Linked DNA regions of Homo sapiens: region 1 is linked to region 2. Evidence: fine-mapped QTL for protein levels in blood plasma. A gene starts in region 2. The other region holds a variant in brackets. All regions are shown on one strand. Distances are from middle to middle.

Region 1 (8,343 bases), 160 kb before region 2:
AAAAGAAAGTTTCAGTGAGGGTTTGTTTCTTGCTGCCAAGGGTCTGCAACTTCGAATTGCCTGAAATACTGAACATATTGAGACATGAATGCTGCAAACATCTAAAAATATTAGTAGTGTGGCTGCCTACAAAGAAGATGGAGGGCCTACCTGAGGCGGCAGAGCCTCTTACATTGGAGGGTTGGAGAGAATCATCCACCTGCAGGAGGCCCCCAGTCAGGAGGTTAGAAGACCATATTTAAGAAGAAGGAATCACAGTCCAAGTTCGGCCTCAAACCAGTACATTTTAAGAGTCTCAGTAGATAGCAAAGAGATCATAAAAATGACTCACCAAAAGGCATATATTAAAATTGGACTGGGATGCATTTTTAAGAAAGCCAGAAAACTCCAAGAGCATAGCTTCAGAATAAGAACAACACATGGTTTTTTGGGGGGGAAGTTTAATAAACTGCAGTTTTGGATTACCTTAATCCATATCCTTAATCCACAAAATTCTGTCATTCACTGTTTTGGGCAATGTGACATTATATTTTATTGTAAAGTATTATAGTATATTTCTGTTTGATGAGTAAAAACTTGAACAATTAAAATAAACAATGTATATTGTAATCTCATTGCATGAAGATTTGATTTTCCTATTCTGTTGTAAATTTTAAATTTCTTATCCTGTTAAAAAGCCCATAAAACAGATTTTGTGAACATATGTTTTATGAGCCAATGCCAAAGTAAGAGTGGTAAATCCCTCAGTCACAGACATAATCTTCAGAAGTCAACACTTAATTATTCAGCTTGTAGATTTTCCATGCTTTCCTGTCCCTCCTCCTTGGTATTTCATTGCACACACACACTTCTTTTAGAAAGCAGGCAAACAAAAGAAGTAGAAGAGATGAAACTCAGACTTGAAGGTGTGGATATCTGTAACATTACTTTGAAATGTTGTCAGCAAGGAAAAAGAAGCTAAAAGATAATAAAAATTGTTATCATTTAAGAATAGCTTTCATTTCAAAACAGTATTTCATGTGCATTTTTTTTCAAATGTCTGTTTAAAAGTTTTTGCAAATTAATTGTGGTTAGGATGTTTCAAACTAACACAGTAAATAGATTTTCACCTCAAAATTGTACCTACTTAAAAACATTTAAATTTTACTTAATACTGACTTTTAGGTTGATTCTTCAGTAAACAAAGTGAGAGCTTGTCATTAACTACCAGCAGGTGGTGGTATTCACAAATAGGGTACAAGAAATACTGAAAGGGCTATGAGTATAACCAATATGTGGTTCAGATTTATGGATTATGGATTTTAAAACATTTTTAATGGAGTTGTCAGCACACTGAAACTACTTCCATTCCCATCTGTTCCATATGAATGTGGAAACTTGGAAGTCACCTTAAAATATGTGCCTGTAGAAAGTTTTGCATTAAGAACATTGGGTCTCTTTATAAAAGCAGACAAATATTTTCTATTTTTAAATATTTAAATTTTCTGTATAACAATGAGCTTCAAACATGCACAAGTATCCTGACTCTTCCAATATTTTGGGGGCCTCTAGGTTTAGAATCTGATCTATCTTCTATTCAGGGCAGACACGTATCAAGAGGGAGCACTGACTGTATACTTTAGCCAAGCTAACCTGAGCAAATGCTGAATGGTGGGCACTGTGCACACAGTTGCTATGGAGAAAATATGTCCGTTCTTGTCTCCAAAAAAAAGGTCCCAGGTTTCAGAGGATACAGAAGCAACAAGAGGCGGTGAACTCCAGTCATCGAGTCAACAGCTTCAGGGGCTTTAGGAACAGGCTGAAATTATTTGGTTTTGACCGCCAGATGACCTCCATTGCTGCCCAGTCTGATGGACAGTCGGACCATTAGTTCTTTTAACACACATTCTTTTCCTGAAACACAGACACCACTCTGCGTTTGCACAGAGCAAGAAAGGAGAGCAAACGAGAGTGTCTGAAAGGGAGAGACAGAGACGTACATTTGCAGAGAAACTTCTAAACCAGCCGCAACCCTTCTACTGTTTTAGGGCCTAGGACTAGAGGAATTCAATCCAAGCAAAGAGACATCAGCTTTTTTTTTTTTATCTAACTTAAAAATCTGACTTTAGACTACAATTAGGCAAGATTATATCTAATAAATGTCCAAAACAAAAACATGGAAATGGTTAAAATTGATTTTTTGTATTTTCTAAAGCATTTGATATCTAGCTTAAAAATCAGCAACACTACTTTATATATATATACAAAATGTATACATATATATGTTTATACATATATATATACACACACACAGAGATCAGAAATAAAGAGGTCTTACTATGTTCTACCTAATGTTAGTTCAGGCTTACTGCAAAATTGTTTTCCACTACATACTACCCAGTTCTTTGAAATCCATTTAATGAGTTTAATTCCCAGGCCACATTACTGTGGTATATGAGATTCAATGTACATTTTATTTGTTTTCTTGGTATGCATGTGTTTTGATGTGTGAATGAAAAGTAACTTTGGTCTTATTATTCTTATAAAACAAATCAGGAGCTAAGCTTTGCTTTCAGACAACCTATTAATCCAAGGCAAAACTGAAAAGCACAAAGATTGTACTCCAAAGAGACCCATAAAGATACTGAACTTTGCCAGGAAATGGGGAGGGAAAAGGGAGTAGAAAAGGAAATTTAGGTAGAGGATAAAATTTTCTATAGATGATGAATCATTCTATCTTTAAATAAAGCAATACTTAAACTTACATTTAATCAAATCTACAAAACACACACACACACACACACACACACACACACACACACCCTCCATCTCCATTTTCTTGTGGTTGTGGCTGACAGAACTGTACTTGTCCCCAGCCTCTTCTGATTTTCCTCTTGGGATAAGTGATGAGCTATGCTGCAGTCAACGAGGAAACATCTGTTTGACTTTCCGAAGCTGGCATGGGGAGCTGAAGTCTGAATCACAAATGCCACTTTCATAAACAGGTCTCCCACAGGAACCTTGCTAAAAACATGACTCTACTGGGGTGAGCCACAGCTCTGGTGAGTGATGGGGAAGGCTGCTCTCCTTTCCAGCTATTTGAAACAATATACACTTTTTATAGGATTTGTCTGTGGTGGGATTTAATGAATTCCAATCTGTTAACAGACGTACCTGAATCCAGTTTTAATTTGGGAAGTTAGTTCATACTGAAGCTCCAAAGGCTCTAAATCTGGGAATTTTTAATTAGTAAGAAAGCTATGGCTGGGTGCGGTGGCTCACACCTGTAATCCCAGCACTTTGGGAGGCTGAGGGAGGCGGATCACGAGGTCAGGAGTTCAAGACCAGCCTGGCCAACATGGTGAAACCCCATTTCTACTCAAAATACAAAAAATTAGCCCGGCATGGTAGCAGATGCCTGTAATCCCAGCTACTTGGGAGGCTGAGGCAGGAGAATCACTTGAACCTGGGAGGCGGAGGTTGCAGTGAGCTGAGACCGCACCACTGCACTCCAGCCTGGGCCTGTCTCAAAAAAAAAA[AAAGCAAGC/A]AAGCAAGCAAGCAAGCAAGCAAGCTATGACACTGTGGTGTGTGGTTACTGTGTTCAGAAAAGACACACAAAACCTCAAATTATTTTTTAAGCATATTGACGTGGTACTTAAAAATCAGCACACAGTTTTCACATTTTATTTTATTCTAGTATTGTTGTCATCAACAATGTGAATAACTCAGAACACCACTCTGGCTAGAGGTGTGTCTAACACACCCGAACTGTAACCTTTCTCTTTCCCTCCCCCCATGAAACTAGGGAGAAAACACCTTTGGGAGCTGTATCTGCCCAAAGGCAAACTCCTGTGGCAGGTGGAACAGGGAGCTGGCCATGCTCCAAATGCCTCCCCTGTTAGAATCTTCACATCTGCATGTCTGTTTAGGTTGTCCAAGTTTTCAACTTAACTTATTTTTAAAACCTCTTTTCTTTAGTTTAGTGATTTTTCTCTTTATGAAAAATGACTGCTTGCTGTTTGATTCCTCTCTTGGGATATTTACTCATTCTCTCCTGAACAGGGCTCTCATTTCCTTGTCAGCACTTGGTTTGGCTGACATCACTGTATGATTATTAACCTGTGAGTGAGCTGGAAATATTTCCGAGATAATCTAAACACACACCCACACCTACACACACCCACACACACACATACACACACACACTAGCCTAGTCTATTCAACTGAAGTATTTGGCAAAAATAATAGATTTTATAAGCTATATCAAATAGATCTTAATGTAAATTGTTAGGCTGGTGCAAACATCATCCTGCATATTTCTAGTTCAAAGGTAGAGAGCATTTGTGTCAGAAAGGAGCTCCTTTATTATTTAAAGACAGTTTCCACCTATCAGAACAGATGGATAGTTGTTGCCTGTAAAATACGAATTATACTATACATAACAATAAATACACTATTGAAACCGTTAGTTCAAGAAATCAAGGCTGTGGCTGGAAAGCAATTTAATTTTAGAAATTCTGTTTTCCTTTTCTTTTTTTCTTTTCTTACTTTCTTTTTTTTTTTTTTTGAGACAGAGTCTCACTCTGTCACCCAGGCTGGAGTGCAGTGGCGCAATCTTGACTCACTGTAAGCTCCGCCTCCCAGGTTCACGCCATTCTCCTGCCTCAGCCTCCCGAGTAGCTGGGACTACAGGCGCCTGCCACAACGCCCGGCTAATTTTTTGTATTTTTAGTAGAGACAGGGTTTCACTGTGTTGGCCAGGATGGTCTCGATCTCTTGACCTCGTGATCCACCAGCCTCGGCCTCCCAAAGTGCTGGGATTACAGGCATGAGCCACCGTGCCCGGCCCTGTTTTCCTTTTCTTATTCCTCTTTTTCTCTTTTTTGAAATTTAAAAATGATATTTCTATTTTACAATTACTAGAGAGAATTATTGGGTGAATGAAGTGGAAATGTCCAAATATACACGAATTTTCTTTCTTTCTGTGACTAGACTAACACTCAACACGAAATGCTTTCACTGCTTGAAGGAAAGCCCTCATAGAACATAGCAGATGGCAGAATTAGCACATAGAATATCATTTTATCATGAAAAAAATGTGATGCCAAGCCAATAATTATTTTCCTCAAATTTGTTTTCCACATCTTTCCCTATACTCAGGGCTCTGAATGTTCCTACAGCATTTAGGATCTTCTGATAAATTTCCAACTTTTGAATTATGAACACTAGTAAGCCTTTTTTAGCTTTAAGTGAAATTAAGACATGAAGTAGATATATAAGTTATTAGGCCTTAGAGAAAAAAAGACAAAATTAGATACTTCTCAACATACATGATTTAACTTAAACAATACCTCAATTTTACTTTGTTCTCACAATCAAAAAATAATGTTGAACAAAAGGAACAGTAGTTGGAGAATTCTTCCAAAATCAATTTTAATTAAACACACACACACACTTTAATGTTGAATATGCCTGTTTAATCAATGATTTTGGCTCTAAGGTGATACAATCAGCATTTATACTTCAAATTACCACTTGGTACTAATAGATACTCTATACACAAGTCCTTAAGGTCAACACCCAAATTATTGCCCTATATTAATCATTAATAACTTAGAAAATGATAATTTTCTAAACCCATTTTTTTAAAAGAGCAAACACACTTGCTTAGTTTAATTTGCTACTATTAAAATGATTTGTGATTAATTTAATATCAATTAATTTAATACTAGATTGCTTACAAAATTATTTACTATATTTCTGTTCTTTTCACCACTTGCTCTTAAGTATTGAGCCATGGGAGATGTTTAGGAACTCCGTTAGGAAGGGTAATTACAGAACCAAAGCAGGGGAGGACCTGACAAAATAGATACCAACAGATAAATGGAGGGAAGGGAGAGATGGAAAGGCACACCATTTCTCATGTGATTATACAGAGGTTGCTTATAGGTACCTTTACATTATTATCTTGTGTTTGTATTATGCCCATTTTACAGATGAGAAAAGCTAAAATCAGAGAACTTAAATGACTTCTCTGAGATCATAAAGGTAGTTAATGTAATAATCCAGTGTAAGGTTTGGAATGCTTTACAAAATGAATCTCATCAAATCCTCGAAAGACAGACATTACTCTTTAGAGTTTCAAAAAAAAGAAAGAAAACTTGAAGAGGCCTCATGCAATATAATAAGCCAATTATAAAAATGAGAAGAAGATGCAAAGGATATCAGTCCTGGGCAACCAAACAATCAGTAGCTAACCCTCCAAATACTGACCTGAAATAATAACATGACAAAAGACTACTTAAAAAAAAAACAAAAAACCCACACCTGTGTTACATATTGTGCTTACTAGTCAAAAGTCCTAAATGACAATTTTCTAAAACTTGAGTACAGGCAATCCTGACTTACAAACCCTTGAGTTACCACCTATAATGTGTATTCATTGCTGTCATATCTGACACAGAGCTGCTGCGGAAAATACTTGGAAGACTGAAAAGGATGAGTTGGTACGAAGTGGAGAGATTCAAGTTAATTTTTTTTTGTTTTTTTTGAGACAGTCTCACTCTGTTGCACAGGCTGGAGTGCAGTGGCGTGATCTCTGTTCACTGCAACCTCCGCCTCCTGGGTTCAAGTGATTCGCCTACCTCAGCCTCCAGAGTAGTTGGGATTACAGGCAGGTGCCACCATACCCAGCTAATTTTTGTATTTTTAGTAGAGACGGGGTCTCACCATGTTGGCCAGGCTGGTCTTGAACTCCTGATCTCAAATGATCTACCCGCCTCAGCCTCCCAAAGTGCTGGAATCGCAGGTGTGAGCCACTGTGCCCGGCCTCAAGTTAATTTTTAACCGTAATGCTATACAAACTAAAACCACAGTAAGATTTTTAAGTTACTTGATAAAACAATTCTGAAATTTACAGGAAAAATAAAGGGGTGAAAATAGCATTTTGAAATTTTGAAAGAGAAAAGTCATGACTGACACTAACGATACTTAAAACATTCTAGAGCTACATAAGTCCTAGTACTGGTACAAAAATAGATCAATAGAATAGGATAAAGAGCTCATTTTAGATGTAATATACTAATATATAATAAATAATGCACCACAAGTAGAAGAGGGTGATTGAATAAATGATTTTGAAGAGAATAGTAATTTGGAACAAGATCAATTTAGATTCTTGTCTCACACTAATCAAAATAAATTCCACCTGAATTAAAGGTAAATATACGGAAGTCAAATTATAGAAAAACCAGAAAAGAACTGAATGTTGAACAAAACTCTAGAGAAGAAAGGACATTTTAAGTTAGAAGTGATAAAAGTAAATAAATAAATTTGACCACTTTGAGAAAAAAAAACAAAAAATAACTTCTGTGTGTAACAACTATCTGTCTACACCAGGACTAGAGATCTATACTAGTCCACTAGATACACTAGAGACTGTTATCTGTCTACACCAGGACTAGAGAATGTGGCATAAGTGGGAAGAGCTTCAGGAAGCTGACCCTGAGGGACCTGTATTTCCAGGCAGAGTTAACCTGCTATAAGGTCATATTCTTGTACAAAATTATGTAACCCACATCGCCCAAATTATTGTGCTCCATCATTATTCCACCTTAAATGCCTTCATTTAGAGATTCATTCATATTTTGAGAACACAAATATGTTCTGAAGGATAGTTAGTGGAGATAACAATCACTCACAAATTGGCACAAAATTAATTAGCTTAGCTTCCTCCTACATCTAGCTGTGATAAGCTGCACTAAGTTAAAGAGAGCTTTTATCTAGTGGGGATGGAAAGTAAGTGATTTGTGAGTTTAATAAAGAATTTATTTTTTATTATTAAAAAATGAGGCCGGGTGCGGTGGCTCACGCTTGTAATCCCAGCACTTTGGGAGGCTGAGGCGGGAGGATCACCTGAGGTCGGGAGTATCACCTGAGGTCGGGAGTTCGCGACCTGCCCGACCAACATGGAGAAACCCTGTCTCTACTAAAAATACAAGATTAGCCAGGCATGGTGGCGCATGCCTGTAATCCCAGCTACTCAGGAGGCTGAGGCAGGAGTATCGCTTGAACCAGGAGGCGGAGGTTGCAGTGAGCCAAGATGGCACCACTGCACTCCAGCCTGGGCAACAAGAGCGAAACTCTGTCTCAACAAAAAGAAAACAACTTTATTATATTTTCTGCGTCCTAAAATATGAAAAACATAGTGAAATTTTAAACGATATGGAAAACATAAATAAATAAAAGTCATCAAAAATATCTCAGTATTTGTGACTTTTCTTTTGGATAACTTTTTTGCATACATGCATGTGCTCACACATACACACCTAATTTTAGCAAAATCAAGTCAGTCTTTAAAAATTT
Region 2 (8,280 bases):
AGAAAAATACATGGAAATTTAACAATTATTGATTCTGAGTAACTGTATCCTATTGTGTGTTTTCTAAATTTTCTATAATTAGCATTATTACTTTTATAATCAGAAAATTTTAACATAAAAAAGGAATAGAACTATAGTTATATCTCACTTTTCAGAATTCAACTGAGCAGTAGCCTCACTGATCTGCAAGACAATCCAGTTTCAAAAATTAAGCAAAAAAGATTCTGAGCAGCCAAAATACATCTTACAAAGCCCACACTTAAAGGTGTGGGTACTTTGTTCATCAAGAAAGCTCTTTGTAACTTCTTTTACATATATCTCAATTCCAACTAACGTGGTTATCTGATGTACCAGAAGCACTGGGAATGTAGACACACAGACAAGGGTGCAAAGTGATAGGCCTTGGCCTAACAGCAAGAAAAAAATAATGAAAATAAAAATATAAAGCAGACACAGACACTTACAAAGCAGTTCAGGGGCAACTATGGCCAAACATCCTAAACAATATATTACCATAAAGTATGGTAATAGATATTCACTATAACAACTTTGAGTTAAAGAGTGCTCTAAAGAGGTTCATTTGAAGATAGCCGTAGACTGGTTGGCTAAAGAAGAAAAATTCCTAATGCATTTTAGGAAAAACCTGATCACAAATATTTATAAGAAGAAGAAAAGAGTGCTTAAAGAGAATCTCCTCAGCTATCCAGAGCAACTCATTTCTGCAAGTTCCCCACAGTTGGAATTTTACTATACTGAAACGGATTTTATGATTGACTGCATTGACTAATACAGATCTGGAGAACAATCTGGAAGGAAATGATTAATGACTGCTTCTTTACAAGGAAGTTTAAAAATAAATAACTATAGGCATATCAGAATCAGCATTAACACAGCAATTGCTACTACATGCAGCCAGGTTGTTAATGTTATTTTGGCTTAAATCCATATTCTGGGCAGGATTTAGTACCATGTAGGCAGTTGGGACCTATCAGCTACCAGGGTAATGTCAGTAGGCCCCATTCCATCACACAGGACAAACTACGAACCAAAGAAATATCTATTCCACCTCCTTCATACTTGTCTCTTTTGCTTCTGACTTCAAAAGCAGGGCTAGAAAGACCAGGAAGAAGAGACTGATTATGTTTATATCTGTGGAGCAAAGATTATGCAAACTGCCAGCACTTCATTGTTTTTGTTTTCGGTGTGGTTATCACAGAACAAAAACAAAAAGATAACTTCTACATCTGAAGCCCCATTATTTGAAAACAGACCTGAATATTTCCTCCTCTTTCAATAAAGCAGAAAGCACCCTCCATTTTACTTATCTATGAGGTATTTATTTGTTGATAGGGGACTAGTTACTATTTCTATATGAGAGCTTGACAGAGTCTATCTAAAGAAGCTATTTCCTGAGTTACTCTAGAAACCTCACACTGTTTTGATATTTGCCAAAAATCCAAGATAGCGTGTTTTTTTTTTTTAATTTCTCCACCTTCCATACCCCTCAGGGCTAAAAAGAGAAAAACATGATCACAAGCATAGTAAATGGTCCGTTAGCACTCTGACCTCTCTGAGTTTCTATTTGTCTTTTGTTCCTTTTTCTTTTAAATACCCTTACTGTTTATTTTTTCCTGTTTACAGAAGTAATGCATGGTCATTGTCACAATTCAAACAACACAAAGATGTATGAAATAAAAATTAATAACCTCCCCTCCTCCAAACTCTCAGTCTTCTCTCAAGGAAGCCAATGTTAACAGTCTGGTATATATTCTTTTTTACTTATTCCTAGGCTTACACAAATATTTATAACATATGTGGCTTTTCTTGTTTTGTCTTTTGGTTTTCAAGCAAAAATGGGATATTACATGTACTATCATGCATTTTGCCTTTTAGTCTTAAAAATATGCCATGGACACTTTCCAAGCCTATATATAGATCCACAGAATACTCTTTTAGTGGCTGTGAAGTATTCCATGAGACAAATGTCCCATAATTCATTCAACCATCACCCTGAGTCTCCCAACTTATTAACATTTAGCATAGATCTTCGTGCATATACTACTTCATGACCTTTCACTTCAGTGACAGATTTTTAGAAGTGAGGTTTCTAGGTCGAGTGAAACATTTCCAAGTGTCTCAAATTTTATATTTAAACAAAATTAATTTTAGGCCTTGGGAATTTCTGTTCTCTTCATTATGCAAAATTTTGTTATCTACCTTTCACAATGCTTTACATATTTTATTCTTAAAAGCACACACATTATGTCAAAAAATGCCCCTGTCATTTATGCTTGTGTAGTTATAAATAAATAAATGCTTAAGTTATGGCTGTGATGTCCAGTGTTAAATCACTGTGCAAATGCTTATGCCTTGGTTTATGAAAGTAGTAATTCATTGTGGAAACCCCACCCCCACAGCCATGTGGCAGCACTAGAGTTGCAGCCCTCACATCCTGTGACTCCCTCCCACAGAGTGACTATATAGAGATCAGGACCTCCATTTTTTCTAATTGTCAACAGTTAACCTTAAAAAGTGTGTGGTGGGGGAGACAAATAGCAACAAACAACAAATTGATGGCCATTTTGGGTTTCTAATATGGACAGATTATTTGTAACACAATGAATAATCCTCCTGGTCTACACCAGCGACTGTGTTCCAAAAGAAATAAAACTTGTAACCAATATATTGCTATTATTATTACAGGAACCTTTAAAAAACATATCTTCAAACATTTTTCAATAGAATTACTGGATGAATCACACTTTACATTTTTTTCTCTACTTCAGATTCAAGTTCTAATTGCAAACTTAAAAAAAAAAGCCTTAAAGAAATACATTAACCAACGAAGCTCCTTATAATTTGGTTTCAGACTCCTCCATATATTTTAAAGACCTGAGCACCAACAGAGATTGTTAAGATACAGCAAGCTTGATACAGAAGTATGCGACATGCAATTAATCTCCATTCATACCCCGCTCTACTTGTCAGCAAACAAAGGTTCTGCTTTAGAAGGAGATCTGAAGACTTCAATTAAAAACAGTCAGCTAACAAGAAAATAATCTAAGCTAAAGGAAGGTGGCAGGTGCAGAAATGAGTTGTTTACCAAAGTGTCAGTTTTGAACAATGAAGAACTGCACATCAAAAATGCTGAAGGAATGGATTTCATTGCAAGCCTCTGAAAATAAAAAGGAATTTTCTACCAAGCCTAGACACAAAACTGAAGTATAGTTTAATAAGCTTATAAAATAGGTTTCCTCTCATCAAATGACAGATACCAATAAAAAGAATCAGTTTATATATTTCAATGCAAGGGCAGAGTTAAACTTTTTGCCACAGTCCCTTCTTTCCTAGAAACCAAAGACAATTACAGCCTTCCTTCACAAGCCTAATATTAAACCAACAACAGAGGGAAAGGCTGGATTGTTTCTTCTTAGACACCCAGATAATTCTCTTTTACCCTGCAAATAGTTTTCTACCCCCAAAATTTAGATTTATTCTGATCGTAAGTAAAACGGATTTTGGAAACCTCACCTCAAAAGAAATATCTAGCTGACAGCTTTTACATAGAAGCAATCCAGAATGGAAATAGTGCTACAGACAGAGACCAAAAGGACTTGCCAAATATTTGATTAGGAGGCATTTATACCGAGATAACAAGGTAATGGAGATATAAAACCAATTAAATTGAGAGAAACTGAAAAAAAATACTGCTTGCCAAAAATATGACCTGCCCAAAGCAGGCCGTCTGTTAAATATGTGTCAACTATGTCAACTTAGATGCCAAAAGGCTTAATTCTGAATAGTTTCCTCCTGGGAGCCTTATGCGACTGCAGATTCCAGGCCTCTGTCCTCCCTGGAAGGTTAGTTACAGGAAAGCAAGTAAAAGTGACTTCCACCACGAAACCCAGCAGATGAAACTGCCCGTTAGCAACGTCTCTTTGTGACATCTCTTTGGAGTGTTGGCAGTGTGTGTTGAGTGTTGACGGGGATGGCCGGAACTCTTTAAACCACCGCTTAGACACTGTAGTTGGAAGGTGAACACACCACAATGGGAGTTGGAAGGTGAACACACCACAATGGGGGCACTTCTAGAAAAGGAGGAAATCCCATACTGAGAATGAGCCTGCCTTGGGGTGGGTGAGACCCCTAGACGTCTGCAGGGTGATAAAGGGAGGGCTGGGGTTTTCGCACTGACAAAAACTCACGTCAACCACCTGGCCTTGGCCCATGGGGATCCCATGAGCCCCTCGCAGCCCCCTGGAGAGCCTCGGGGACCTCTAAGCAGGAAGGTTTGGGGTCTTCTGTGAGAGGTGAGGAAGTCGTGGCTGGGGAAGGAGGGGGACGGGAAACCCTACAGATGTAGGGCAGTCCTTTGGAGAAAGGGACAGGTCGGAGACCAGGCAAGGTGGCATGGGGGACCAAGAACCTGGCCTGAGGACTTTAGAAGCCGGGGAGGTGAAGTGGAGGCGTGGAGGTGCCTCAAGGCAAAAGAAGATGTGGGACTCCAGGGAGTGAAAGGGGCCCTGAGGTGAGAGGATGGAAAGCTGGCTCTAGGGAGTTGAGGGCTCTAGAAGCCTTAAGGTTCTAGAAGGAGGTGAGTGACGAAGCCGTAAAGAAAGCCTGGCCGTGGGAGGCCTGGTGTCCCCTTTCGGCCTTCGGCTCAGCACTGGAGGGGGCCTGCGCCAGGGCGTTACCTTCCAGGAGCCAACGGATCTCCTCAGGGAGGGCGGCGGCCTGCATTTGGCTGGGCGGGAGAGAGGCGGGACGGGGCGCGGGCCCTGGTCGGGAGGCGGACGGGCTGGAAGGCGACCCGGCTGCACCGCGAGGCACCTGTACCTCAGCCGCGGTCGCCGCCCGCCCAGCCCGGCCGCGGGGCGGGGCCGTGGGTCCCCGGGCGCGTCAGGAAGTGGCGCGGGCGGCAGGCGGGGACCGGAACGGGGCGCGGGGCGTGGGTGCACGTGGCGCTCACGCCGGAGCCCCACGGTAGAAGGATTGGGGGTGCCGGAAGCACCGCACCGTGCGAGGCCAAAGGTGCGCCCCTCCAGCACCCACCAAAACAAAAGACTTCACAAGGCTCAAAGGACCCACGGCTTTGGACACTCCATCCTAAGCACCGAACAGTTGACCTCACGGTGGCAGATTTGAAAGACCACGGGGTGCCTGAAGTAGGGTGCAGGGAGGCAGAATCCAAGGAAGAGATCCCCGTCAAGCATAGCACCCCTCAATTGCCGGTCCAGTTCACATCTCCATCCCCAGAAAAGAGGGCAAAACTTCGCTCTTTGGGAAGCCACAATGTTGAAAGGAAATGATTAATTCCCAATAAGCAATATAAGGACACCAACATTTGGGAGAATCGCGGCAGCGTGGCAGCAAGGGACACAGGAAACCAAACTGTGCTGTTCTCCCTCAGGATGGAAAGGCCCTGAGGAAAGGAAGGGGTAACACAGGGAGAAAGCTGAGGGAGAGGAGAACAGAGCCCTTTCCCTCCAGGAGCTGCGGAAGGGAGGAAAGTGAAGGACAAAATCACACGGTCTCATTCAAGGGACAGTTGGTGTCAGTGTCCTGGTTGTGACATGGTACTGTAATAGTGCCAGATGTTACCCTTGGGGGAAACTGGGTAAAGGTAGACAGAGTTCCTCTATTATTTCTGAAACTCTCTGTGAATCTATAATTCTCAAAATAAAGAGGTTTTTTAAGTACAATAGGTCAACTGCCATGAAAAAAGTATAAAGTGCTATGGTTGATAAAAGAAGGGAGCTGAATACCAGAAAAGGAGGGAAGAGGCCAGGCATTGTGGCTCACACCTGTAATCACAGCACTTTGGGAGGCTGAAGCAGGAGGATCACTTGAGCCCAGGAATCTGAGGTTACAGCCAACTATGATCACCCCAGTGTACCCCAGCCTGGGCAACAGAGCAAGACCCTGTCTCTTAAAAAAGAAAGAAAATAAAAAGAAGTGCCAGTGTGCATGTGAGTGTTTAAAGGTGCATGTGGTGTTTGAGATGGGCTCTGAAAAACACACCAGACTTTGAAGGGGCAGAGGACTTTCCAGGTGGAAGGACCAGAGTAAAGAAAGATGGAAGAGCCCTCACCAGCTTGAGGAATAGTTAGTAGCCCTCTTTTACTGGATGTTGTAGAAAGACTATGGTTGTCAAGATAAACTGCAGCTCTACTGTGAAGGGACTTGAAAGTCAGAATAGGAATGTTGAACTTAATTGAGAGGGCACTGGGGAGCCATTGACAATTTTTGAGATTGGGAATGACCTAACCAGAGCTCCGGGGTGGTATGTGGCCTCACACATCTCCACCTCTGCCTTTTTCCTTCTTTGTAAAAAATGGCATTTCTATTCTCAGACTCAACCTACAGAATATGTAGAAAAGATTAGGAGTGGTGGGAAAAGACACAGGGGGAAGTGGGTAAAATGGTTTTTACAACAGCCATAAGGGGAATAATGATGGACTCAATCTAGCAGACGGGGCAAGAGCAGTAAGAAGAAACCATCGAGAAGGATGAGTGTGATAAAAGTGCCTGCCTCCTTGTACTGTTTCCCATCCAGAGATACAGCCTCAAAGATGAGGGTGTGATCCTTTAAGGAGTACAGTGCATCCTGCCATCTGAAAAGCAGTGGTGCATTGGTTTCAGTGTCACATGACCCACCTACAAGCTGCAGTAAATTGGGGTGAGGGGACAGAGGCTGGCATGAGCCTCTCTGGGGTATCTGGCTCCTGCTCATCCTCCTTCCTGCCCTGAGAAAGTATAGTAATGGGTGGCTGGGCACAGTGGCTCACGCCTATAATCCCAGCACTTTGGGAGGCCAAGGCAGGCGGATCACGAGGTCAGGAGTTTGAGGTCAGCCTGACCAATATAGTGAAACCCCGTCTCTACTAATAATACAAAAATTAGCTGGGCATGGTGGTGCACGCCTGTAATCCCAGCTACTCGGGTGGCTGAGGCAGGAGAATCACATGAACCCGGGGGGCGGAGGTTGCAGTGAGCCGAGATCAGGCCATTGCACTCTAGCCTGGGTGACAGGGCAAGACTCCATCTCAAAAAAAAGAAAGAAAGAAAGAAAGAAAGTATAGCAATGGGCAGACTACCCCTTTCAGGCTTGGGATCAAGTACCAGGTACCCCCATGGCATTTTTACCAACTTCACCACTTCACCTATAAAATTGTAGCTGCTCTAGAATCATTTTGAAGTACTTATGAGGCATACTAAAAAGCAAGGAAAGATACATGGGAACTGTCTGTGCTATCATCTCAATTTTTTTTTGGTAAATCTAAACTGTTACACAAAAAATACAGCAAGGGCAGCAAAGTCTCCCCATATGTCAACCTAAACTTTGCCTTGCTTTCCTTCTTGGCAACAGAAGAAAATTTGATAACCTCCCCCTCTTCTTCAAGGATATGGTGTCACATACTAATATAAGCTACCAGCTAATGAATTGTTTGATAAAGAGCAGTAAACCCAGGTAATTGCACTTCTTTGCAGGCTTCACTGCCTGTCATAGCTTACTTACACCAAAAACTCACAGTGTACGTATTCTATATGCATCCTTCCTTACAAGAATCTCTGGGTTTTAGAGAGACAGGGGTAGAGGGAGGTGCACAGTCGGGTAGTATGTAGTGAGTGACTGGCAGATTCCAATACGGTATTGTCATGTTGCATCAAGGTTCCTCATTGCAGACAGAAATCTGCCTCCACACATGAACGCAGCCCTTCCTTAATCATCTGAGGACCCTGTTTCAGCAGTCAGCCCCACTCCTAATGACATTCTGTTAAATGGACAAATTCCTTTGAAGCCTTGTCCTTTTTTGAAATCCAATTTCGCAGGAAGCCAAATCTGATTGGGGGTAGCCATGGAAACCACATGGAGGAGTCTTAGAGGAGGTGAAGAGAGGCAAGGCAAAACGTGATAGTCACGAGTCCTTTACTGTTCTGTCAGAAATATCAAAGCAATCTGGAGAGGTTGGCAGTAGCTGAGTCCCTGCCTGGGTCCTGTTCTGTGTGGCTGGGTACTATGTGGCTGTCATGGAAGAAAGCAGCCAGCTGTCTCTGCACACAGGCAGGAGGACAGAACAGAATACACAAATCTCAGGTCTGTCTGCCTCCCTTTTCTTCCCGTCCCCCCCAGACCCAATTCCAGCAAGATCTTAGCATCCTCTTCTTAGCTGCCTGCCCCTTAAAGACAAACAACAAAAGAATGACAAGGTTAAAATACAAGGCCCTCACAGATAAGAGGTCCTTTGGAGCAGAGGCCATGAAATTAATCTGGAATTC

Alleles and levels. Alleles are on the strand shown, and positions count from the first base shown. The strength of an association depends on the size of the effect and on how common the allele is.
In carriers of allele AAAGCAAGC in region 1, the plasma level of the protein whose gene starts at base 4,834 in region 2 tends to be lower than with A alone (weak association).

What was found. A credible set is the group of variants that fine-mapping cannot tell apart. PIP is the chance, under the fine-mapping model, that this variant and not a neighbour inherited with it causes the effect. The UK Biobank Pharma Proteomics Project read protein levels with antibody pairs (Olink). The fine-mapping took linkage between variants from a reference panel, not from the people measured, so its PIPs are less certain.
Region 1: its variant is the best candidate, but not a certain one, in a credible set for the plasma level of the SKAP1 protein (UK Biobank, PIP 0.68).

What each region holds. Positions count from the first base shown.
Region 1 is chr17:48,261,983-48,270,325 of GRCh38, forward strand. The region is part of intron 4 of SKAP1 (src kinase associated phosphoprotein 1); the gene reads right to left. Among named protein-coding and RNA genes, the nearest start is that of SKAP1-AS2, 28 kb to the right of the region's middle. The variant AAAGCAAGC/A (reference allele first, on the strand shown) is at 3,519.
Region 2 is chr17:48,425,381-48,433,660 of GRCh38, forward strand. SKAP1 (src kinase associated phosphoprotein 1) reads right to left here and starts at 4,834. Exons shown (of 13, transcript NM_003726.4): 1 at 4,695-4,834. The coding sequence starts at 4,740. RefSeq lists a silencer at 4,748-5,007.